Homo sapiens: one gene and its partners. The protein of the gene in region 2 purifies or fractionates together with the protein of the main gene of each other region. This does not show direct contact. Each region holds a gene or a part of one and is shown on either strand. Other genes may lie near its edges.

Region 1 (4,590 bases), on a different chromosome or scaffold from region 2:
CACAAAGGTGTAAAGTAGTGTACATATCAGATCTATATTTTATTTATCTCTTCCCCCTTTCCTTTTTGCCCTCTCATTATTAATTGTTGGTGACCCTTTCAGGAGTAATTCTAGTGTGTTTACATCTTTAATCATTGAATTACTTACACATCCTTTCACCTCATATCATTAGCAAAAACGGATATTTTTTAAAACTATTCCCGACTGCAAGATTATCCTTTTGGTCATGAAAGCGTGACCTGCAATGGTCCAAGCAAAATTTTTAACATAGTTATCGATGCATAATGTCTTTATAGATAGCAATTAAGTAAAAATATTAAGTCTAATTAAGCAATTGTTTAAGTTACACAAGTCTCATGAAGTGCATTGGGAAACTTTCTGCTTTTTCTCTTCTTTGAAAGGGCTTGTACAGATGAGAATTACCTGTCCCTTGATAGATTTTTTTTTTTTTTTGAGACAAAGTCTTGCTCCATCACCCAGCCTGGAGTGCAGCAGTGCAATCTCGGCTCCCTGCAGCCTCCAATCCCCAGATTTAAGCAATTCTTGTGCCTCAGCCTCCCAAGTAGGTGGGACTACAGGCATGTGTCACCACCCCCGGCCAATTTTTGTATTTTTAACAGAGACGGAGTTTCACCATGTTGGCCAGACTGGTCGTGAACTCCTAGCCTCAAGTGGTCTGCCCGCCTCAGCCTCCCAAAGTGCTGGGATTACAGGCATGAGCCATCACACCCAGCCCTACCTGTTCCTTGAATGTTAAGTAAAATTCACTTGTAAACTGGGCCTGGTATTTTCCTTGTGGAAAGATTTTAAACTACTGATTTGGTCTCTCCAAAGTTTTAAATTTAGATTGTTTCTTAGTGGGTTTGGATTTTTTTTTCCATTTTTATATTGGCTATTAAAAATGTAGGGGAGCTTCTGTCATTCAGTTTCGCTTCATCTAAACTAGAACCTACCATCAAAATTGCTATTTCAATATGATGTGTGATTCATATTTGGAACACAGTTTTAGAAATGCTTTTTGAAAGTAACTTTAAATAAAATATTATGATATAGTTAATGAAGATCATTTTATTTTGTCATAGGAGGAACCAAATCAGATGAAAAAGTGGACTTGAGCAAGGACAAAAAATTAGCCCAATTTAACAACTGGTTTACATGGTGTCATAATTGCAGGCACGGTGGACATGCTGGACATATGCTTAGTTGGTTCAGGTAATCAGCACATTTCTTCTTTGATAGGCTTGGAGTTATGGGGGATAACACAGATTGCTTCTAAATAGTTTGGGTTTATCTATTAGCATTTAGCCAAAGTATGAATTTTATTTTTTACTGTCACTCATGTTAACAAAGGTGGTGTGAACATGTCGTGATTAGATATCCTATGTAACCTTAAACTATAAAGGTAATACTTATGTAAGAACTAATTTAAATGTTTTGTATGAGTTAAATGTTTGAATAACATTATTTAACTTTATTCGGGGAGAGGATATGTTTACAGTTTTTACACTGAATATTCTGTAATTTACCATGCAATTGAATTACTAATGAAATGTTAAAAGAGCATATCATACCTCTGCCTCAGTTCTCTTCTAAGTAAGCTTTTTATGTAGTCACGCAATTAAGACTGTCAAGACATATTTGAATTTCATTTTGAATGGTGCCAGTGGCCCTGTGCTCCTGGTTGATACAGCATTTATACCCAGTTTGTCTTACTAGCTAATTTAAACTCTGAGCACATCCCTGTCACCTTCACAACTATAAATGAAATATCTTGCCATATATGTAGAAAGTAAAAGGTATGTGTTTCTTAACTTCTCCCTAAACTTCAGCTTGGCAGTAGTTTATAATTTGATGCTTTTGATGCTTTTTTTCTCTGGGTTTTAGTTTCTATATTTTTCCAAATGCCATTTTGAAAAGTTGCATTATAGATAGATATAAGTAAACAGGTGGGCACAGTGGTGCACACCTGTAGTCCCAGCTACTCAGGAGGCTGAGGCAGGAGGATCACTTGAGCCCAAAAGTGTGCGTACAGCCTGGGAAATATAGGGAGACCCTGTCTCTTAAAAAATAAATAAATAAATAAATGTATGTCTGTCTAATTTGGATTTTTAACTGTTATTTGACCTATTTTTTTAGGGACCATGCAGAGTGCCCTGTGTCGGCATGCACGTGTAAATGTATGCAGTTGGATACAACAGGGAATCTGGTACCTGCAGAGACTGTCCAGCCATAAAATGTTACCACCTTAAGAGAACCCTTCAAGTGTGGAGCTTTCTAGTAGGTGTCCTTCATAGCTCAGAAACATACCTCAGAACAAGCCATTCATGACTTACCTGTAATGGGAAAATAAATCATTCTATCAGATCAGCAGTTTTGATGTTTGAGTGATTTTGATATGCTTCACAGAGACAAATGCTGCCAAAATAAACATCGAAGTATAGACATGAGTTCTGTTCAGCAGGTTGAAAAGTCTGATTTAGAAAAACTTTCTAAGTTTTGGTTGAAATTATGAACACTCTAGAAGCAGAATTTCTGGAAGAGCCAAGAACAGACTTTGAGCCTATATCTTCAAAGCTGAAACTGGATATCTTTCAATAAAATATGTGCACTTTTAAAATAAAATGACTAATTCTGTGATTCAGACAATAGTTTTAAGTTCAGCTGTGCTTAGATTTCTTTCAGATTAATTTAAAATTACAGATTTTTACTTTTAGAATTGCAGAGCCCCTATCCCACACTGGAGAATATTTTTTATTACTGTCTGTTATATATGTGTCTATGTGTGTGTGTATATTTATGTGTGTATGTATAAATATGTATTTTTTAAAGGAGCCTTTTCCCTCCTTTGATTTTAAGATAAGCAATCTTTTGGCATAACATTATCGTCTTCCTAGAAAAGCCAAGATGAAGAATCTATCTTACAACTTTTTCTCTTCAGTAGAGAAAAACATGTACCATTTCAGGTGAACATACAAAATTTTCACTTTCTACCTTTTGCCTTCCAATGTCCTGATTTGTCTTCAAAGGTTTTTCTCCATATTAATTTGTCATCTTATCCTCATCACCTGAGAACATTTTACTGCATACAAAGTCTATGCAAGATTATATGTAACTAGCCATTTAGTATAATCTATGTCAGTGTTTCTGTGCTGTCAAATTCCGTCCTGATTTGGAATACCATACCTTGTTCTTTCCAAGGTAGACTAGGAAGTGTTGGGGAAATGGGGTCACTTCAGAGACCATTTTAGATGTAAGTTTTTAAATGTAAGTGTTACTGGGGCTAAGTCAGGTACTTTATTTAAAACATTTTTTTTTCTCATTTCATAGCTAGATAGTTGTAAGAGAAATACAAAGAATTTACAAGATGCTTCTCTGTCATCTGCCATATGCAGAGGGACTGAACTAGGAATTTTGTAGTTGAAGCTGTGTTCATAAAGAGTAAATCTTATTTTATAGATTTTGGAGAAATAAAACAAGAATTTTAAGAGCTTTCGTATTAGCAGTTTTGCCTTATAAAAACTAAGATTTGTCAGATTAGTTTGAGGTGTAACCTAAATATTAAAAGTAGATTAAATTTATTTTTTACCTTGAGTGTCTGATACATAAAACCCTTTTCTAGGAAAACATTGGAAGTAGTACATATTTACTCTAAATGTCTCACCTGCATGACAGTCTTTTCAAATGAAAGACATGGTAATTGCAATTTTTTTTTAAAGATTGCTATTAAGGGTACTTTTTCCAGCCTTCATTTGAGTAAATCTTAATTGATTTCATTTTATTAACATATACCCTTTACCTTTAATATTTCATTTGAAGTGTTCCTTTCAAACTTACTGTCTTAAATATGAAAGTCAGCTTTAAGTAATGTCAGACTCATATGCATTTTCATTCTCATTAGCTAAAGTAAAATGTAAAATTATCTCAAATAGTTACAAGTTTTGGAAATACAGTATAAAACATGAATGTAAAGTCTATTATGTAATATGCTTATTTGTAATCCTAATATATGAGGGTGACATTTTTAAGATTGTATGTATGTGTCAACCTCTTAAATGTTTTCTGTGAAGCCCAAACATGCAGTTTATGTCTCTGGTGTCTGTTTTGCATTTCAGTGTGCATGGACAATCAAATTATTTTCTCATTTTTATCACTAAGTCACTGGTATTTGGGTTTATAAACTCAACAAGATACTTTACCTAAACATGATCAATAGATGTGTTTATTAAAAGTGTTTTTATTATTTTTAAAAGATTGAATAAATCTGGGTTGAAGTCATTGTATCTAATCAAGAAATTATGATTCCTTTACAAATAATCCACGTGAAGTAATATTGGTGCTTTTTTTGATGACAGACTTCATACTTAATATTAGAAGTAACATTCCTTTTAGGCTCTGTTTTTCAATTCAACCCACTTTCCAGAATAGTTATTATCCTTTAAAATGGTATATTTTAAAAGTAGCTTCCCATTGTCAATGCTTCACATAGTAAGTATTTAAAAGAATGTAGTTCTTCATTTAATTAGATGACTCAATTTCAGTCATTCATTTGACTGCAAGTAGTTAAAGCATGGTCTTTGAAACATAAATTAT
Region 2 (7,498 bases):
GGCTCTGAGACAAATCCATTTCCAGAACTTTTCCAGCTTCTAGAGGACGCCCCCAGCTCCTGGCCCTTTCTTCTAACTACAAAGCCAGAGCTCAGCATCTTCAGATCTCTCTCCTGATCTTCTCTCCCCCCACTTTCTGTCTTCCTCTCCCTGGACTCCCCTCTCCTTCTCTCTCCCTCCATCCCCACATCTCCTCCTCTCACTGTGACCCTCCTCCTGCCTTCCTCTTTCCCTTATAAAGACTCCACCCTGGAGCAATGCGGAAAACCCAGAATTGTCTCTCACCTCAGGCTCCTTATCACCATCATGTCTGCAAAGTCCCAGTGGCCACACAATACAGCACATAGACAGATCCTGGATTGGGACACTGCAGTCTCTGGGAAGCCTAATTCAGCCACCTCCATCGGAGGCAAATCATGGTGCCACAGGCTCTAGCCTCCAGCCCGTGGCATGTAGCTCCTTCTCAGGGCACTGGGCATCCGGGCAGACAAAGCCAGAAAAGCCTAGAACAGGATGCAGAGTGGTAACATTAGAGCGCACCTTGTCATGCTGGCCACTGGGTGGCAGGGGCCGGTTTCAGCGAAGGTACTCACACCCACACTTCAAAGTCCAGCCTCTCCTTTTAGCGCAAGCTGGCCAGGAACTGCGGCCTGGAGTGGGGACTGCAGACACCACAGTGCCCGGGCTTCCCACTCCACAGGAACAGCTGCAGCCACCCTGGCTGCACTCCTCGGGAAGCAGGAGCAGCAGAAACTCAACCCCAGCCAGCCCTCCCCACCCAAGTGCCGGTTCCCGTTCCTGATGCCTCCTCCACCCACAGGGCCCTGTAGCCTCCTCGTGTCCACTACTGCGTGCCCCGGGGTCCCAGGCGGTCTCTGCAACACAGAGCAATAGGAGGCGGGTCCAGGAAGCACCACGGGGCTGGGGCCCCTGCCGCGCTCAGGAAATGCTGTGCGCCCGCCGCACTTGAGCAAGAACAGGAGGAGGTGGCCGGGAAGAGGAGGACCGCTCCTCTCTTGCAGACCACCGCTGTCACTGACACCTCCACCGCCCGCCACCGGCAGTGCAGTCCCAGATGGCGCCCCTAACTCATCCGTGCCTAGTACATGCAGCACCCAATGGCGCTGGCAGCCTGCCCCCTGCCACGGGCAGCGCAGCCCGGGATAACTCCCCAAACCCGCTCTGTGCTGTGGGCAGTGCAGCCACGGATACCACCCTCAACCAGCCCCTCGCCACAGGAAATGACTCCCGGGATAGCGCCCCAAATCAGCCCCCAGCCTCGGGCAGTGACGCCTGGAGTAGGTCACCCAACCCAACTCCTGCGCGGGCAGTGCAGCACCAGATAGCGCCCCTAAAACGCCTCCCGCCACCGGCGGTGTAGCCCAGGATAGCGCCGCCAACCCGGTACTCGCCGCGGCAGTGTAGCGATAGGGCACCCAATCTGCCACCCACCGCCGGCAGTGCAACCCCAGATAGCGCACCGAACTCACTCCCTGCTGGGCAGTGCAACCCCACATAGCATCCAACCCGCCTCCCCACCCAGCCACTGGCAGTCCGCCCCCGATAATGTCCCATACACGCTCCTGGCTGTGGGCAGTGCAGCCCATGGGTAGCGCCCCCAACCAGCCCCCAGCCATGGGGAGTGATGCCTCGGATAACACACCCAACAAGTTCCCCACCATGGCACTGATGTCCCAGGTAGCGCCCCCAATCCTTGCCCCTCAGCGACCAGTGCAGCCATGGATAGCGCCCTCAACAAGCCCCTCCACTGACCCCCGCCGCTGTGGGAAATGACGCCCGGGATAACGCACCCAACCCTCCCCCGCCATGAGCAATGCAACACGCACTACTGCTCCTTACACGCCCCCCACTACATGCGGTGTAGCCAACGATGGCGCCCCCATCTCCCCCTCGCCTCGGGCAGTGTAGCTCCCGATAGTGCATCCAACCCATTCCCTCTGCCCCTCTCCTCCCACCGAGTCAACCACCGCCGGCAGTCCAACCCCAAATAGCGCACCCAATCCACTCCCTGCCAGGCAGTGAAGCCCCCCGATAGCACCCAACCCGCACCCCCACCCCCGCCACTGGCAGTCCGCCCCGATAACGCCCCAACACGCTCCTGGCTGTAGGCAGTGTAGCCCATAGATAGAGCCCCCAACCAGCCCCCAGCCAAGGGCAGTGACGCCTCGGATATCACAGCCAACAAGTTCCCTGCCATGCGCACTGATGTCCCAGATAGCGCCCCCAACCCGTACCCCAGCGCGACCAGTGCAGCCACGGATAGCGCCCCCAGCAAGCCACCCCGCGGCTGCGGGAAATGACGTCCGGTAAAGCACCCAACCTTCCCGTGCTGTAGGCAGTGCAGCACCCAATACTGCCCCTAACACGCCTCCCACCACCGGGTTGTAGCCCACGATGGCGCCCTCAATCCGCCCCCGCTCCCACCTCGGGCAGTGCAGCTCCAGATCGTGCATCCAACCTGTCCCCCTCCCCGCCCCCTGCCGCAGGCAGTGAGCCCTGGATAGCTCATCCACCCCGCCACCTTTCTACATTCTGGCTGCGGTCTAGTCTCCCTCACCGCCACCAACGGCAGCGAGCCGAGCCATGCTGCTGCAGGCTTTCAAGCCTCCAGCGTGGGACAGGTGACTCCTCCTCTAACCTGGGCATGGAGCAGATGGGCTGGCAGACGCAGAAGTGCCTGGAATGGCAAGAACCCCTCCCCCCACAGACCGAGGTTATGCAAGTAAGGTTTCTGGACTACATGTTCAGATTGGATGAGAGAAAAACCTCTAGGTCTACTCTGATTGTGCTTTATTTTCACGTTCTGACTGGATGACAGCAAGTCTTAGGATAACCAATCAGAACAAGATAACAAAGCCCGATCAGAGTAGGCCTAGAGGTTTCTCTCATCCGATCAGACTATGTAGTCGAGAAACTTCATTTGCATTAAACTCAGTATATAAAGGATGCCAAGAGGGGTGGCTTGCCCTTCCAGGCTCATCTGCGTCGGCCTGCGTAGCTGCTCTGTGCCCGGCTTAGAGGAGAAGGAGGAGGAGCCACTTGCCGCGCATGCCAGAGGCTAGAGTCATCTACCGCGCATGCTGGAGGCTGGAGCCTACAGTGGCTCACCTCGCTGCTGCGGTTGGTGGCCGCGAGGGTGACTACAGCGCAGCCAGAATGGTGAAAAGGTGGCAGAATAGGTTCGTTATCCCAGGCCGTACTGCCTGTGGCGTGGGGGGCGGGTTGGGGGCCCTATCCAGGGCGTCACTGCCCGTGTTGGGGGGCTGCTTGAGTGTGGTACCTCGGGCGTCACTGCCCGCTGAGGGGAGTGGGGTGGGGGCGCTATCCGGGGGCGCTATCCAGCCTATGGCTGGAGATGGGTTGGGGCGCTATCCGAAGCTGTAATTCCTGCGGCAGTGGGGAGTTTTGGGGGCACTATCTGGGGATGCACTGCCCGCGGCCGGGGGGCGGGGGTGAGTTAGTAGAACTATCAGGTGCTGCAATGCCCTGATGCCCTTGTTGGGGACAGGTTGTGGGGGGCTGGTGGGTGCAACACTGCTGGTGGCGAGGGTGGGTGCTGCTATCCGGTGCTACTCTGCCTGTGGGGGACGGGGGCGGGCGTGATATCCAGGGCATCATTGCCTGCATCTGGGAGCTGGTTGGGGACACTATCCATGGCTGCACTGCCCACAGTGGGGAGCGGGTTGGGGGCACTATTTGGGGCTGCAATGCTGGTGGTGGGGGACGGGTTAGGGTCACTATAGGGTGCTACACTGCTGGCAGTGGGGAGGGGGTTGTTGAGGGCGCTCTCTGGGGGCTACACTGAGACAGGTAGCGGGGGGTTGTTGGGATTGGTACCGGGGCTGGACTGCCCATGGAGAGGGGGTGGGGGCGTTGGTTGGGGGCGCTATTGAGGGCCGGGTACACTGCCTGCGGTGGAGGGGTGGGTTGGGTGCTATCAGGGGTCTGTACTGCCTAGCAGGGAGCGGGTGGGTGTGCTATCTGGGGCTGCACTGGCTGCAGCAGGGGCAGGTTGGGTGCACTATAGGGGGCTACACTGCCCTTGGCAGGGGGTGGTTTAGGTGAGCTGTCTGTGGCCGCACTGCCCGAGGTGGGGAGTAAGTTTGGGTGCTATCTGTGGCTGCACTGCCTGGAGGCAGGAAGTGGGTTGAGGGTGCTATCCTGGGCTGCTTCTCCTGGTGGGGAGCAGGTAGGGGCACTATCCAGGGTTGCACTGCCCGGGGTAGGGGGCGATTTGGGTGCCATATCGGGGCATCACTGCCCACGGCAGGGGTCTGGTTGGGGTCGCTACCCATGGCTACACTGTCTACAGCCACTGCCTACGGCAGGGAGCGGGTTGGGGGCGCTATCCCGGGCTGCGCTGCCCAAGGCAGGGGGTGGGTTGCGGGTGCCATTGGTGCTGCAGTGTCCGAGGCAGGGGCGGGTTGGGGTTGCCATCTGGTGCTACACTGCCAGCTGTGGGGGAGGGTCGGGGGCGCTATCGGGGGCTGCACCGTCCCCCTGGTGGTGGGCAGCGGAGGTGTCAGTGACAGCGGTGGTCAGAGGAGGTGAGAGGGACTCCAGTCTCTAGAGGGCCATCTCCTTCTGCTCCTGGCCAGCACACAGCATTTCTGCGGGGATCCTGAGCACGGCCCGGCCCCTAGACCTGCTGTGGTTCCCAGGCGCGCGCCCTCTCACCATGTGTTGCTGAGACCGTCTGGGACCCCTGGGCACACAGTAGCGGACATCATGGAGTGACAGGGCCCTGTGGGTGGAGGTGTCAGGAAGAGGTACCGGCACTTGGGTGGGGAGGGCTGGCTGGGGTTGAGTTTCTGCTGCTTCTGCTTCCTGAGGAGCGCAGCCAGGGGTGGGCCCAGCGATTCGTGCCGAGTGGGAAGCCCGGACGCTGTACTGTGGTGTCTCCAGTCCCCACCCCAGGCCCCAGTTCCTGGTGAACTTGGGCCAAAAAGGGAGGCTGGGCTTTGGAGGGTAGGTGTGAGTGCCTTTGCTAAAACTGGCCCCTGCCACCTAGTGGCCAGCATGACAAGGTGAGACTCTAATGCTACCACTCTCTGCATCCTGTTCTAGGCTTATCTGACTTTGCCTGCCCAGTTGCTCCGTGCCAGGAGGAGGAGCCACTTATTCCATGCTGGAGGCTGGAGCTGGGGGCACCGCAGCTCACCTTGCTGTGGTTGGTGGTGGCGATGGAGACTACAGAGCACCAGAGCGGTAGGAGAGCAGCAATGGAGACTGCAGAGTGCCAGAGCAGTAGGAGGGCGGCTGGCTGCTGCCTGGGCAAGGGCAGGCCTGCTGTGGTATCCAGGTGGTAGGAGCCTTGTAGGGTGGACCAGTGGACTGAGGGCAACAGGAACAGTGGTTGTATTGGCATCAGTGCTAGTGGTGGCAGCAGCAGCAAGTCTGGAGGTTGGGAAGGCGGGTAGGAGCGCTCCAGGGCTGACCCGCCCGGCTGGGCCTGGCCTGGGGTGGGTAGGAAGCTGTGGGCCTCTGGGGCAGCGGTGGAGGCGCAGCCTGGGGAAGGAGGAGTCTCCTCCGCTTCTCCTGCAGAATCTGGAGGGCGCCCTCCTCCTGGTAGGTCCTGAGCCAGGCGTGAGTGGCAGCATTGTGTCATTATTAACAAAGTTTGGGTAGTGACTATTTGTGTATCTTTTTGCTTGTTTTTTGTTGGGATAGTCTTGGGCTTTTTTAAATTTCATGAATCAGGGAGGGGACAAAAGCTGTAATAGGACTCCTGATTCCCTTGTCTGTTCTTTTTCTTTTCTTCTCCTTATCATCATTTTCTTGTTCCTCTTCATTTTCTTATGCTGCTGCTTCTATTTCTTGTAGCATGTGGAGGAGGGAGTGGGAGATAGAGACCAGGCCCTCTCTAGAAACAGTCACATCCTGGAGGAACGGTGATGTATTTTCTGATGAGGATTTTCATTCATGAGATGTGTGCAGAGTGACCCTGGCTAGGTGCCCAAAAGCCTCCTTGTCTATGGTGTGACTCCAGGCCCAGGAGGCAACCCCGTTTTTGTAGAAGAGCCTGTCCTGGAAGCATCTGTCCTGAGAGCACCTGATGGCACAGTAGGGAGCTGAGAGCAACTGAGTCAGGAGGGACAATGGCCAGCCCCTCCCAGGATTCCTGCCTTGGGCAGATGCTGGCCCACTGACTTACAGCCCAGGGGCTGACAGGGGTGTCTTGTCCAAGCCACTGTGGGCAGGTGTTGCCTAGGCAGTGTGGTGTTGGATGACACCGAAGCTGCTGCACAGCCTGGGGTATTCATCTCTGGCAGACTGAGGGCCAGGTACTGCACATCCTGAGGTGTTCATCCCTGCCAGACCGAAGGCCACGCCCAGGCAGCTCCCCATCCCCTGCCACAACAAGGCCTCATTTTTCCCACAAACCAACTCCATGCACCCATCCTCCAGGCCCCTGAGTATGCCAAGCACCAGGCCCGGTGAGCCCTGGTCTCTCTGTGCTGCAGCCACGCACCTGCCTAGGGACCTCCTCCTCACCTTCCTGCCCCTCATGCCAGTTATACCCCACATGCTGTGAGGCTGAAGTCAAGCAGGGAAGCAGCAGAGAAGGCATGGAGAGCGACAAGCCCCACAGCAGGGTGTGAAGGAAGGCCTCTCCAGGTCAGTGTCCTTGTCTAGCCCCCAGGCATGTGCTGCAGGCATTTGGGCCCTTTACTTCTTCTTCCAAGGGAACCACAAACAGCCCTGGGGTCCAGGGGGTTATTGGCCAGATCTCCAGAGAGTGACTCCAGGGTCCTGGTCTCCAAGGGAGAAGAGGGTTTGGGGAGAGGCCTTTGGTCAGGCATGTGGCGCATGCTATTCCTGAGCAGGTCGGGCAGCTGGTGCTTGCCTGGCTAATGCAGTTTCTGCTGGGCCTCTCTTCCTGGAGGAGAGTGTGGCCTCTTTCCCAGCTGTCTTTTAGCCAAGATGCACAGAAAGCAGACCAGAGATGCAGGTCACAGCCAAAGCAAGTGGCAAGTGGTGCTGCTTCCCAAGGGACATTGCCGTGGCTGTTCTGTGGCTCTGAGATGCTTGGGGTGCCCACCTGGAGCTGTGAGCTGGCCTGGCAGGCCTGGGAGGGCCCTATGGGCTCTTTTGAAAGTTCACTTTTGTTGAATTTTACATAGAATCTTCCCATGTCCACTCCCCAGTACTCTTTTCTGCTGTCCCCAGACAGTGCCAGCAGAGGCCACGTGCTGTCTAAATATGTCCGCAGGCACTCAGTGCAGGGTCCTGGCCTGAGGGGGCATGAGGCCAGCATCCCTCACTTTAGGACCGGGAAGTCAGTTCTCAGGCTTCCAAAACAGCTGAGACAGCTGCCACTTCCTGTCACTTAAGCCTGGTCTCTGTACCTCACTTTCCTTCTGGGACCTCAGTGCCTTCTTCCTACAAGATACTGGTGTTCACGTCACTAGCTCTGGGACTCGGGAGGAGACTGAGGCACACAGATGATCAGTTGTAATCACATGGACTCAGGGTG
Region 3 (7,041 bases), on a different chromosome or scaffold from region 2:
TTCACAACCACTAATGATTAGGTAGACAGTAAAGTCATTCTTAATTTGAAAACCTTCTTTTTAAAAAGCACTTACATATCACAGCATATCATGGTAAAAATGATAAAATGGTAATTGATACATATTAAAATAAGTAATTGAGCATTATATCTGACCTAGAAATTTAAAAACTATTTCCTTGACAAAAAAGAAAGTGGTGGAATTTAAATAGTAACAAGAAACTTTTACACTTACCAGCTTCTCAATTTCTGATTCAAGATTCTGTATACAGTCAAGTTTTCTCTTGCGACAGCGCTGTGCAGCAATTCTGTTTTTACTTCTTCTTCGAATATCATGGATACAATCCAGCTGTTCTGGAGTAAGCTTGTGCATTTTCAACAAGGACTGAAAATCATTTCGAGACAGTGAAATTATCCGTTGTGCATTGAATGGCAGTTTTACCTAGAATATGAAATAAATATTACTAATTATTGCTGTATTTTATAATTATAGTCAAACCTAGGAAGATGAAGGTATACATCTAAGTTTTTCAGAGAACTTATTTTACATTAAAGAAAACATAGGCCTCTATCCCAATTTCTATACAATCTCAAAAGGATATCTGCACTGATCTACACATATTTTTTTGGAGACAGGGTCTCTGTCATGCAGGAGTACGGTGGCACAATCATGGCTTACTGCAGCCTCAACCTCCTAGGCTCAAGCGATCCTCTCACCTCAGCTTCCTAAGTAGCTGGGACTACTGGCACATGCCACCATGCCTGGCTAATTTTTGTATTTTTTGTAGAGATGGGGTTTTACCATGTTGCCCAAGCTGATCTCAAACTCCTGGGCTCAGGCAATCTACCCACCTCAGCCTCCCAAGGTGTTGGGATTACAGGCATGAGCCACTGTGCCCAGTCTGTACTCCCCGCCATATTCGTTACCGCATTATTCACAATAGCCATGATATGGAAACAACCTAAATGTCCATGGATGGATGAACGGATAAAGAAAACGTGGTGTATATACACAAAGGAATACCATTCAGCCTGATAAAAAGAAGGAAATCCTGCCATTTGCCTACAATATGGAGAACTTGGGAGGCATCATGCTAAGTGAAATAAGCCAGACACAGAGGAGAGTAAATCCAACATGATTTCACTTATACGAAGTAGACAGAACAGTCAAACTCACAGAAACAGAGAGTAGAATGGTGGTTGCCAGGGGCTAGGGAGAGGGAAAAAATGGGGAATTGCAATTGGATGGGTTAAGTTTCAGTCATAAAAGAATAAGTTATAGAGATCTGCTGTACAATATTGTGCTTATACTTAACAATACTGTATCGTACACTTAAAATTTTGTTATAAGGGTAGATCCCATGTTAAGTATTCTTACAAAAAACAAATAAAGCCCAAGAAAGGGGAAAAAATGCAATGGATAAAATAGAAAAATAATTTTTAAAAAGAATGTAAATTGTGATTATAAAGAGAAAAGCCAACTATTGAAAGGCAAAAAAAATCATAAAATATAAAAACAAAAAAAAGAAAAAATATTTTAATTAATATATTTTTGGAAGGAACTAACAGGCCCTTGTCATTATTGGACTTATAAGTAATATTTTACAGAAAGGATCTATCAAATACAAACAGAATATACAAATCAAGCTTGCTTTGATTAATATCATACCAGCTACATGTAACTCATGCTAAATTAAGACATTCATCAATAGTTGAAATGGCCAAAGGAAAATTTAAAAATCAATGGCCATGAAAAACTAGATCCAATAAACTTTACTCCACTAGAAGTCACATTCCTACAACTAATCACTGTTAAACCACTGCTCAGGGACATGTCCCAGGTCTAGAGGTTCTTGTTGGCAATGAGCAAGACTGAATATATGCTGCATTTTTCCAGGAGTTATCAAATAATGAGCATAGAATCATTATTCTTTTTTGTCTTGCAGCATGGCATTTGATTTAAACAATTAAATGGCCGATGTGTGAACACAGCCAATGTGTGAACCTACTTTATGGTTAATATATCTACTGGAAACGAATGAACAGAAGTCCTTCAAACTTCATCTCTCTCTTTTGGTATTTATCACACAGTGTTTTTAAAAAATTTTTTGAGACAGTCTTGCTCTGTCTCCTAGGCTGGAGTGCAGTGGTGCAAACCTGGCTCACTGCAACCTCCGCCTCCCACATTCAAGCGCTTCTCCTGCCTCAGCCTCTCGAGTAGCTGGGATTACAGGCACCCACCACCACACCCAGCTAATTTTTGTAGAGACGGAGATTCGCCATGTTGGCCAGGCTGATCTCAAACTTCTGACTTCAGGTGATCCACCCACACCTCGGCTTCTCAAAGTGCTGGAATTAACAGTTGTGGGCCACTGCGCCCAGCCCTATCACACAGTCTTACAATTAATTTTGTATGAGTTTCCTCCCCACTCCCTGAACCTGATTATATCCCTAATGATGCAAAGGGAGCTGATCCACAGTAAATCCCAATTAATGGTTATTAAAACAATGAATTAAGAACATATTCCTGCTCACCTCACATTCTTGTTCTCTGGCTGAACAGGATTCACTGTCTCCTTCGGTGTCCGTCTCAGAGTCGTCTCCCAAGCTAATGACACAAGCATATGGGCAAGGTTCTTGCTGGGGTTCTGAAACATAATCATCGTTTCCAATTTCCAAATTGCTTGAACAGCCTTCAGTACTCAGAGTACTTATAAAAGGGCAGTTGACAGAACTTAATGTTGTGAAAGTCCTTTGACCTGGTTCTGGGCTCTCACTAATCCTGATACCTAACCACGGACACTCAGACCGTTTCTGTGAGATCTGTTCTGAGCCATCTTTGGCCACAGCAGGTGATAACTGCATTTGGCAAGGAGTGTCCGTGCTGCAAATGTCACTCCAGAAGCCTTTTGCTAGGTGTTCTGCCACTTCTCGCTCCACACTACTCCTATCACTAGATGCAACACTACTATCTTCCCTGGTGCCCAAGTCGGATTTCAAAGGTAAATCCTGACTTTCACCAAATGTTTTTTCTTGGACGTCTGTACCTGACAAAGGCTTTTCTGTTAACACTGTTGTGTTTTGCATACCAGCAAAATTCAAGTCACCATATTGGTCATATGTGTGTAAAAGAGACAAAGAATAAAGTCCATGAGGGTCTATGGAAGAATTGTGGGGGAAAGGAGTCACTTCTGATTTTTCAGTTGGGCACTGAGAAGCAGGATCTTTCTTCGTTTCTTCAGGTTCCATTGCTAATTTACTTTCGTCACATTTTAACATCACCTGCAAATCTCTACACTCCGGGACTCCTCCCAGGCATTCATTTTCAGACCTTTCATTTGGCTGAACAGAAGCATGAATGTCTTTGACACTAGATTCCCCAGTACGGACTCTGTCAGTTCCAAATGCTTTTTGGAATTTTCTGTATTTGGGGCATAAAGAAGGCAAGGCCAGAGCAGCATCCTTCTCTAAGCACATGGACTCATATGTCTGACTGGCACTGTCTTGTAGAGGAGGTGAGGCTTTTGCATTTCCTTGATACCTGCGGAGTTTACACTGAGGAGTCTGAACATTTTTATTTTCCAGAAATTCCTCCACTTCATCAGTTTCTAGATCCCTCTGGTCCAAAAGTGAAAGTTTAAGGTCTGTTTTCTGACAGTGTGATGAAAAGCATTTTTTTCTTGGGCATTCTTGCTGGTCTGCAGTGGAGTCCAAAAACTTAAATTTCAGAAACTGAAAGCAGGATTCCTCAATATTATGTACACTTAAAAACTCCACACATTTGCACACTTCATCCACATTCTCTTTACTTAAAATCAGTTTAGCAGTGTAGGCAAACTGAATTAAAGGTTCAAATCCTTTAACTGTCACCTGTTGATACACAAAATAAAAACAAACACATCATTTGAAAGCTGTCTAGTACATAAAAACAAAATAAGTAGAAGAGGAATAGAGAGATATGTAACTTATTTGTGATAATTATAAAATATGTACTTTAATTTGAAGAAAACATATTCTTCTAAGAAATGTAAAAGAAAAAGATCCTGGAAAAGCATGCTTTTCACAGGGACCACACACTATTTTATAGAGTCCTCTCTTAATTGCACATGAATTATGGTTTACTCACATAAGTTAAAGATGTAAGACATTACCACAATTTTCCCATGATAGTGAAAAAAAAAATCATCTATGAATTAGAGCAGGATGAACACTACCTGCCACACATAGTGAGTCTACTGCTAGCCCAGCTCCACATGGCCACTGTATTCCAAACAACTCCAACTGCTACAAGCTACAAAAGCAGAATTTTAAAGGATATAAAACAGTATTTGTAAAGCAGTTACAAAGTCTTGATCCATGGTAAATGCATACTAACTGGTAACTATTAACTTTACTGTCAAAAATTCCTAACAGTAAAAGTTTTAAAGATTCAGATTTTTAAAAGTGATCTAAGAGAAGTTATAAAAATCATGCCTCGGTACTGTTTCAGCAAAAATTCATGGACTCGAAGTAACAAAACTTTTAAGTAGAAACTTGCACATTTACATTAAACCTGCCTCTTAAAGTGAGAGGCAAATGGAACCAACTCCAGTACACAGAAGGCATCATCCTGGATTAAAAGCACAAAATTAATTTGAAACCACTGAGTTCTTATAAGAGTGGTCAAGATAATATTAATATTTGTGATTTTTTTTTTTCTAAGACGGAGTCTCGCTCTGTCGCCCAGGCTGGAGTGCAGTGGCGCGATCTCGGCTCACTGCAAGCTCCGCCTCTCGGGTTCACGCCATTCTCCTGCCTCAGCCTCCCGAGCAGCTGGGACTACAGGTGCCTGCCACCATGCCCGGCTAATTTTTCTGTATTTTTAGTAGAGACGGGGGTTTCACCACGTTAGCCAGGATGGTCTCTATTTCCTGACCTCGTGATCCACTCGCCTAGGCCTCCCAAAGTGCTGGGATTACAGGCGTGAGCCACCGCGCCCGGCTGTGATCTTCTTAAAAACATAAACATGCTAAACCATGTTTAGGCTTTTTAAAGGCTCCAATAAAAAGCAGTGATACCATCAAATGCTAATGAGAATGCCGATAAACTAAATCACTCACATATTGCTAGTGGGAATGTAAAATGGTACAGACACTTTGAAAAAAACTTTCTTATAAAACTAAACATGCAACTACCATATAACCCAGCAACTGCACTCCTGGTCTTTTATCCCAGAGAAATGCAAATTTATGTTCACACAAAAACCAGTACACAAATGTTTACAGCAATTTTATTTGTGATAGCCAAAAACCAGAATTAGCCTGATTTCCTTCAATAGGTAAAAAGCTACACACACACACACACACACACACACACACACACACACACACACAAGGTACATCCATACTACAGAATATTACTCAGCAATAAAAAGGAATAAATTGCTGATACACACAAGCTGGATAATCTCAGCTAAGTCAAACAACATCAATCCTAAGAGGTAATATACTGCATAATTCCATTTATATAACATTTTTAGAATGACAAAACTTTAGAAAAGGAAGAAAGATTAGTGGTTGCCATGGATTAGGCACGGAGGAAGGGGGCAAGGGGATGAGGGCATGGAGTGTAGGCAGGAGATGTCTGTGGTTATAAAAGGACAACACAAGGGATCTTTGTGTTGGCAAGTTCAGTTCCTTTTTTTTTTTTTTTTTTTTTGAGGCAGAGTCTCTCTCTGTCACCCAGGCTAGAGTGCAGCGGCACGATCTTGGCTCACTGCAAGTGATTCTCCTGCCTCAGTCTCCCGAGTAGCTGGGATTACAGGTGCCCGCCACCACGCCTGGCTAATTTTTGTATTTTTAGTAGAGATGTGGTTTCACCATGTTGGCCAGGCTGGTCTCGAACTCCTGACCTCAGGTGATCTGCCTGCCTCGCCCTCCCAAAGTGCTGGGATTACAGGCATGAGCCACTGGGCCCGGCTGTTATCTTAACTATGGTGGTGGATACACAAACCTTCGCAGGGGATAAAATTATATAGAACTTAACCCGCACACACACATGCTAGTACAAGCAAAATTGTGGCAATCTGAACGCTATGGGAGATTGTATCAATATCCTGGTTGTAATACTATACTACAATTTTGCAAAATGTTATCAATGGCGGACACTGGACAAAGTGAAAAGGAACTCTGCATTGTTTCTTACATCTGTACATGAAAACATCAGTGTGACAGTTAATATTAAATGTCAACTTGATTGGATTGAAGGCTGTAAAGTCTTGTTTCTGGGTGTGTCAGTGAGGGCGTTGCTAGAGAAGACTAACATTTGAGTCAGTGGACTGGGAGAGGAAGACCCACCCTCAATATGGGTGGGCACCATCCACTCAGCTGCCAGCGAGGCTGGAACAAAACAGGAGGAAAAAGGTGGGATAGGTGACTTGCTGAGTCTTCCAGCTTTCATCTTTCTCCCCTGCTGGATGCCTCCTGCCCTTGACATCAGACGCCAGGTTCTTTGGCCTTTGGACTCTCAGACTTACACCAGCGGTTTGCCGAGGGCTCTTGGGCCTTTGGCCACAGACTGAAGGCTCTACAGTGTTGGCTTCCCTACTTTTGAGGCCTTTGGACTCGGACTGGGCCACTACTAGCTTCCTTCCTCCTCAGCTTGCAGGTGGCCTATAATGGGCCTTCACCTTGTGAACATGTGAGCCAATTCTCCTTAACAAACGCCCCTTCATACATACATATATCCTATTAGTTCTGTCCCTCTGGAGAACCCTAATACACTCGATAAAAATTTCAATTAAAATTTTTAAATATGTTAAAATAATCTAAAAAGGTCTTTAGGATAGTGAGTTATAAGGTATTTTGACATTGTCACTATAATGAAACACTTCAAATATTTGAAAACTTATGATTTACACATTAGAAAGAATGAATGAATGCATACACACATGCATGTATGCACATACCTTTCCTCCTAAATCCACGAATCAAACTTTGCTTTACTTGTAAAGTCTCATTCAATAATTTGAAAATATGAACCATAGTTAATACATCTCCATTAT
Region 4 (4,599 bases), on a different chromosome or scaffold from region 2:
TATTTAATTATGCATTGTTATTTCAAACTGGCTTTAAATATCAGCGATGGAATAGGTTAAAGTCATAAAATATGGTTAAAATCTGTAGACAGGTAGACTATAAAAATTACAAAGGAAGAAACTAATTTAGTTATAAAGCACTACTATAAAAAGCTTTCTTTGTAAAAAGCCGTTTTCTTCCTGGTAGCTCTAGAGCACAAATTATACCATTGTTCTAGTTCAGAGGTCTAGTCAGAAGACTTTTTCTATCAGATAGGTGGTAAATTAGGTTTTGTGGGCCATAGAGTCTCTGTCACAATTACTCAGTGCTGCTGTTGTACCTTGAAAATAGCCATATATGATATGTACACACACAAAAGCATGGCTGTGTGCCAATAAAACTTTATTTGCCAAAACAGGTGGCAGGTTGGCTTTGAAGAGAGGGCCCTAGTTTGCTAATCTCTCTTCTGTACCAGCGCTGTCCAAAAGAAATATAATGTAAGCCACATATGTAATTTAAAACTGTTTAGTAGCTAAAGAAACAGGTAAAACTAATTTTAATATTTTATTTAAACCAAAATATCATTTCAACATGTAATCAATATAAAAAACTGTTAATACATTTCCATTCTTTTTGTACTAAGTCTTTGCAACTGCTATGTATTTTACACTTAGATATTATAGTGGCTGCCACACTGGACCATACGTTCTAGAGCTTCCATGCTCGGATTCTTTAATTTGGAGGTTAGTGACACAGTTTCAGATTGGGTTTTTCAAAGACAGGGGATATGATTATGTTGTCCCTGGGAAGCATGGGACGAAATATTTGGCCTTGGTCACTTTCAACTGAGGTGACCCAGGATTCTAGGGCACAAATGGATAACCAGACCCACGATACAGTCAGATGATGTTAGCTTCGTCAATGCAACAAATATGTCAATAGCTGTCTGTATAGACGACAGAGTGATCAAGGTGTGAACATATCACTGTAGTTTTTGGCCTTCACTAAGGAATGCTAATTCCTTCGTCAATAGCAGAACTAGTCTTTAGCACTTTGACTATATCAGAATTGAAAGCATATAAGCGTGTCACATTTGGAAGAGAAACTGAACTGGGTAGCAAGGAAAAAAGCTTCAAAATTAGACTTAATTTTTAAAATGATTTAAAAAGCTAAATGCTTATTCAGTTTATCTTCGTGTAACAGTCTAATGCTAGTCAGCAACAGATTAACAAGTTATCAAGAGTCATCATAACCTTCATTTAACTCTTGGGAAGCTTTTAATTATTTACAACTTTCTAAGCAATAAAGTCATCATTTCCAGGAAAAGAATGAACACAACCTGTGGTTAATAGAACTTGGAGCCAAGTTTTTTTTAACAAAAAATTTATTACCAAAATACAATATTAAAGTCAATACATGACAAACTCCTGTAAAGCAAAATAAATTATTCTAACATTGTACAGTATTTCCAAAGGTAGTTAAAGAAGCACTACAGACCTTGCCTCACTGTTCTGAACAGATGAACTGCTCTCCCATGAACACAGTCCTAGAGTTTCCGCTTTAAGGCATGCAGCTTGATGTGCAGGATAATTTTACAAAATGCAAATCATCCTATTTTAATAAGATACAGTGTCAGAATTAACTGTAGTCTTTACATGTCAGTATTCCAGAAATTTTTATACTTTGGCTATAGAAGCAATGCCATAGTGTTACACAATACTTATTTCTTAAAAAAATACATGTATTCATGTTCATGAATATCAAACGCAAATTTCTATTAAATATATTTTATCGAATATTACTTAGAGCACCTTGCTGTACAATTTAAAAAGATTAAATAAGTGTCTATGAAAACTAAAAACACAATAAGTCTCAACAGAGAAGCCTGCTTGTCTTTGTCAAGCCAATTACAGCACGGGAAGGTGCAATGTAAACATGGATGCCCACCATTTACTTTGTGAGAAAAAAAACAGAAAATTATGAAGCCACCAGCAGCCACCTTCAATAGGAAGAAAGATCCAGAACAAAGGCTTCGGTCGGTGTCACAACATTGCACTATCTGGCCAAAGAACTTGGACTACCGATCAAATGGAATATTAGCATGATACTGTTGAACACTGGGACACCCGCCATATTCTGGATGATTAGAGAAAGGGAGAAAATGATAGAGCCCTGAAAAGTATTCTTTATAATGATCAGAATGCATCATCTTCCCCCCTCCCCACCTTTGCCATATGTAGTTTCTTTTCAAAGCTATTTTCACTATCACGTCTTAGTATTTTTTAAGTGTTCGGAGCAGAAAACAAATACTATGAGCTCTGTCTAATAAGAAGTCAATACCAATAAATAACATGTTATTCTATGAAGGAATTCCTACTGAATTTTTTTTTTGGGGGGGGAGGTAAACAGAGGACCTCATCTGTCACCCCGGTTGGAGTGCAATGGTGCCATCACGGCTCACTGCAAGCCTCTATCTCCCAGGCTCAAGTGATCCTCCCACCTTAACCTCCCAAGTAGCTGGTGCTACAGGCACGTGCCAACTATGCCTGGCTAATTTTTAATTTCTTGTAGAGACAGGGTCTCCCCGTGTTGCCCAGGCTGGTCTTAAACTTCTGGACTCAAGCAGTCCTCCAGCCTTGGCCTTCTAAAGTATTGGGATTACAGGTGTGAGCCACTATGCCCAGGCTACTGATTATTTTAATAGCTATCTCTTCTACAGTTAGAATTGCATAATCTTCATTATTACTTTTAGAAAACTCAATTGTTCTTGGTAGACACATTGTTAACTTAAGGCTTGCCACAAAATGATAATGGGAAGGGAAAGAACCTCCTTGATATATGCTTCCTCCTATCGGCCAGGAGAAAGCTTTTAAGGACAATTCTAAGGCCAGAATCAGATGAAACTTTAAAGGCTTTGAACTTCTGGGTTAGTTTTTTCCCCATGAGGTGGGGAAATTTTAAATCCATGATTCCAGGTGGAAAATTTAAGTAACAATCAATGGAATTAGTTTAAAGAAATAAAGGTAATTTAAAAATTCACATCATTGAAATTTTGGGGATGCTTTTCATTATTATTTTCTAAATATGATATAAAACTAAAGCCAAGGAAATTTTCTAAGACAAAATCCTTCTAAGGTTGTTGATTTTCAGAACAACAGATTTTTATAAAGAAATACTGAGTCATTGTACCAGCAATGAAAAAACTGACTTACAATATGAGTGGCAACAGTATGGGTAATAATAATGAAATCATTTTAAATGTTCTATTTGAATTTGAAATTAAAATGTTTCAATTCCGAAAAAAGGAGAAAATGAATATAAGTCCACATACAGTGGATTTGAGGAATATAGTATATATAAATCCATTTCATATTTTTAAAAACCACGTATCAGAAATGGATTAACTTTCATAAATAAATTAAAGCTACCTAAATAAAAAAGCTGCAAAGTTACAATCATTTATGTTTGTTTAAATATCACCAAAATGAGATTAGAAAGAAAGAAAAAAAAATCAGAAAATGTTGCAAGATGCCTGGCCCCACTTAAATAATTCCTAATAATAATTTTATAAATATTAATCCAATCATACCTGGACTTTAGGAACAGAATACTTCTTAAAACGTGCCTACAGCGTATCCCATTCGAAAACCTTTACAGTGTTCCAAGTTGATCGGTCACAGCCTCATCCAGGTGTTAGAAATCAATATTCAGATATTCGGAAATAGCACCGTGAGGATGGTGCACAGAAGAGCGCACCGACCTTTTCACTTGTAGGCAGAATTTACTTAAACAAAACAATGCATAAATGAGTAATCAGAACTACAAAAACAAAAACACCCTGTTTTCTTCACTCCTTGAAATAATTAAAATACAAAATGTGTAATTAATAAGATTACATCTATTTGATGGTGAGTTTTAATGCTAAAGCACTTTGTGTTGGTTTTCCATATGTCCTATCGCACTCTAACAAAATAGAATTTCCAGATAGGAAGAATCCTATAGACTTGCCAAATGCTATTTGTTATTAAAATTTTTACAAACAACCTGAATTTCTGCTATATTTTAGTCACATTTGGTTATATTCCTCTTCTGCTAAATATAACTAAATTAATATACCCCAGGAAAGAAAAGCTCAACACAGCAGTACTCATTTTCAGGAGCTTTTAAATTTCACCCCTCATCCCCTAAGGGATTTTTGGAAATAGTTCAAACTATTTCCAATGCCGGATGATCAAATGTAAATTTTCATACATTGTTTCTTTCACACACTTTCAGATAACAAGTGTGGTTTCATTTAGCAGAGTATTAGAAGGTCTACGTACTATGGAGAAAGTATGCCAAGTTCTGACAGACACTGAAAAGAACCTCTGAGAACACGGAAGACGATTTAGCATTACTACGAATTGAGATCTGGTTTGAGTCTGGTGAGAATTCACCTGTTTCGTCCTCTGCTCACAAGAAATTCATCGTAAATTTAAGACAATACTTCTTGAATGCCTATTTACAATCTAGCTTTGAATTTAGAGATCTTTCCTTTCTTTTTTAAGGAGTAAAGGAACATGTCCTAGATTGAGTATGATTAATTTCTATCAATTTAGGTATTTCAGTAGATCATTTCA

What was found.
Region 1: the proteins of RFPL2 (region 2) and MIOS purify together in Homo sapiens (affinity purification with mass spectrometry; 3 studies listed by BioGRID and IntAct, with this or other methods). This does not show direct contact.
Region 3: the proteins of RFPL2 (region 2) and BACH1 purify together in Homo sapiens (affinity purification with mass spectrometry; 3 studies listed by BioGRID and IntAct, with this or other methods). This does not show direct contact.
Region 4: the proteins of RFPL2 (region 2) and ZNF507 purify together in Homo sapiens (affinity purification with mass spectrometry; 3 studies listed by BioGRID and IntAct, with this or other methods). This does not show direct contact.

What each region holds. Positions count from the first base shown.
Region 1 is NC_000007.14:7,604,860-7,609,449, forward strand, and holds the end of MIOS (GATOR2 complex protein MIOS), read left to right. Parts: intron 1-1,082; coding exon 1,083-1,212; intron 1,213-2,136; coding exon 2,137-2,233; 3' UTR 2,234-4,073; downstream 4,074-4,590. UniProt on the Homo sapiens protein: As a component of the GATOR2 complex, functions as an activator of the amino acid-sensing branch of the mTORC1 signaling pathway. The GATOR2 complex indirectly activates mTORC1 through the inhibition of the GATOR1 subcomplex.
Region 2 is NC_000022.11:32,202,048-32,209,545, forward strand, and holds the start of RFPL2 (ret finger protein-like 2), read right to left. Parts: upstream 3,027-7,498; 5' UTR 2,660-3,026; exon of another isoform or gene 2,256-2,659; intron 1,431-2,255; exon of another isoform or gene 594-1,430; intron 504-593; 5' UTR 405-503; coding exon 286-404; intron 1-285.
Region 3 is NC_000021.9:29,322,887-29,329,927, reverse strand, and holds part of BACH1 (transcription regulator protein BACH1), read right to left. Parts: intron 3,870-7,041; coding exon 2,535-3,869; intron 442-2,534; coding exon 235-441; intron 1-234. UniProt on the Homo sapiens protein: Transcriptional regulator that acts as a repressor or activator, depending on the context. Binds to NF-E2 DNA binding sites. Plays important roles in coordinating transcription activation and repression by MAFK.
Region 4 is NC_000019.10:32,383,600-32,388,198, reverse strand, and holds the end of ZNF507 (zinc finger protein 507), read right to left. Parts: 3' UTR 532-4,599; downstream 1-531. UniProt on the Homo sapiens protein: May be involved in transcriptional regulation.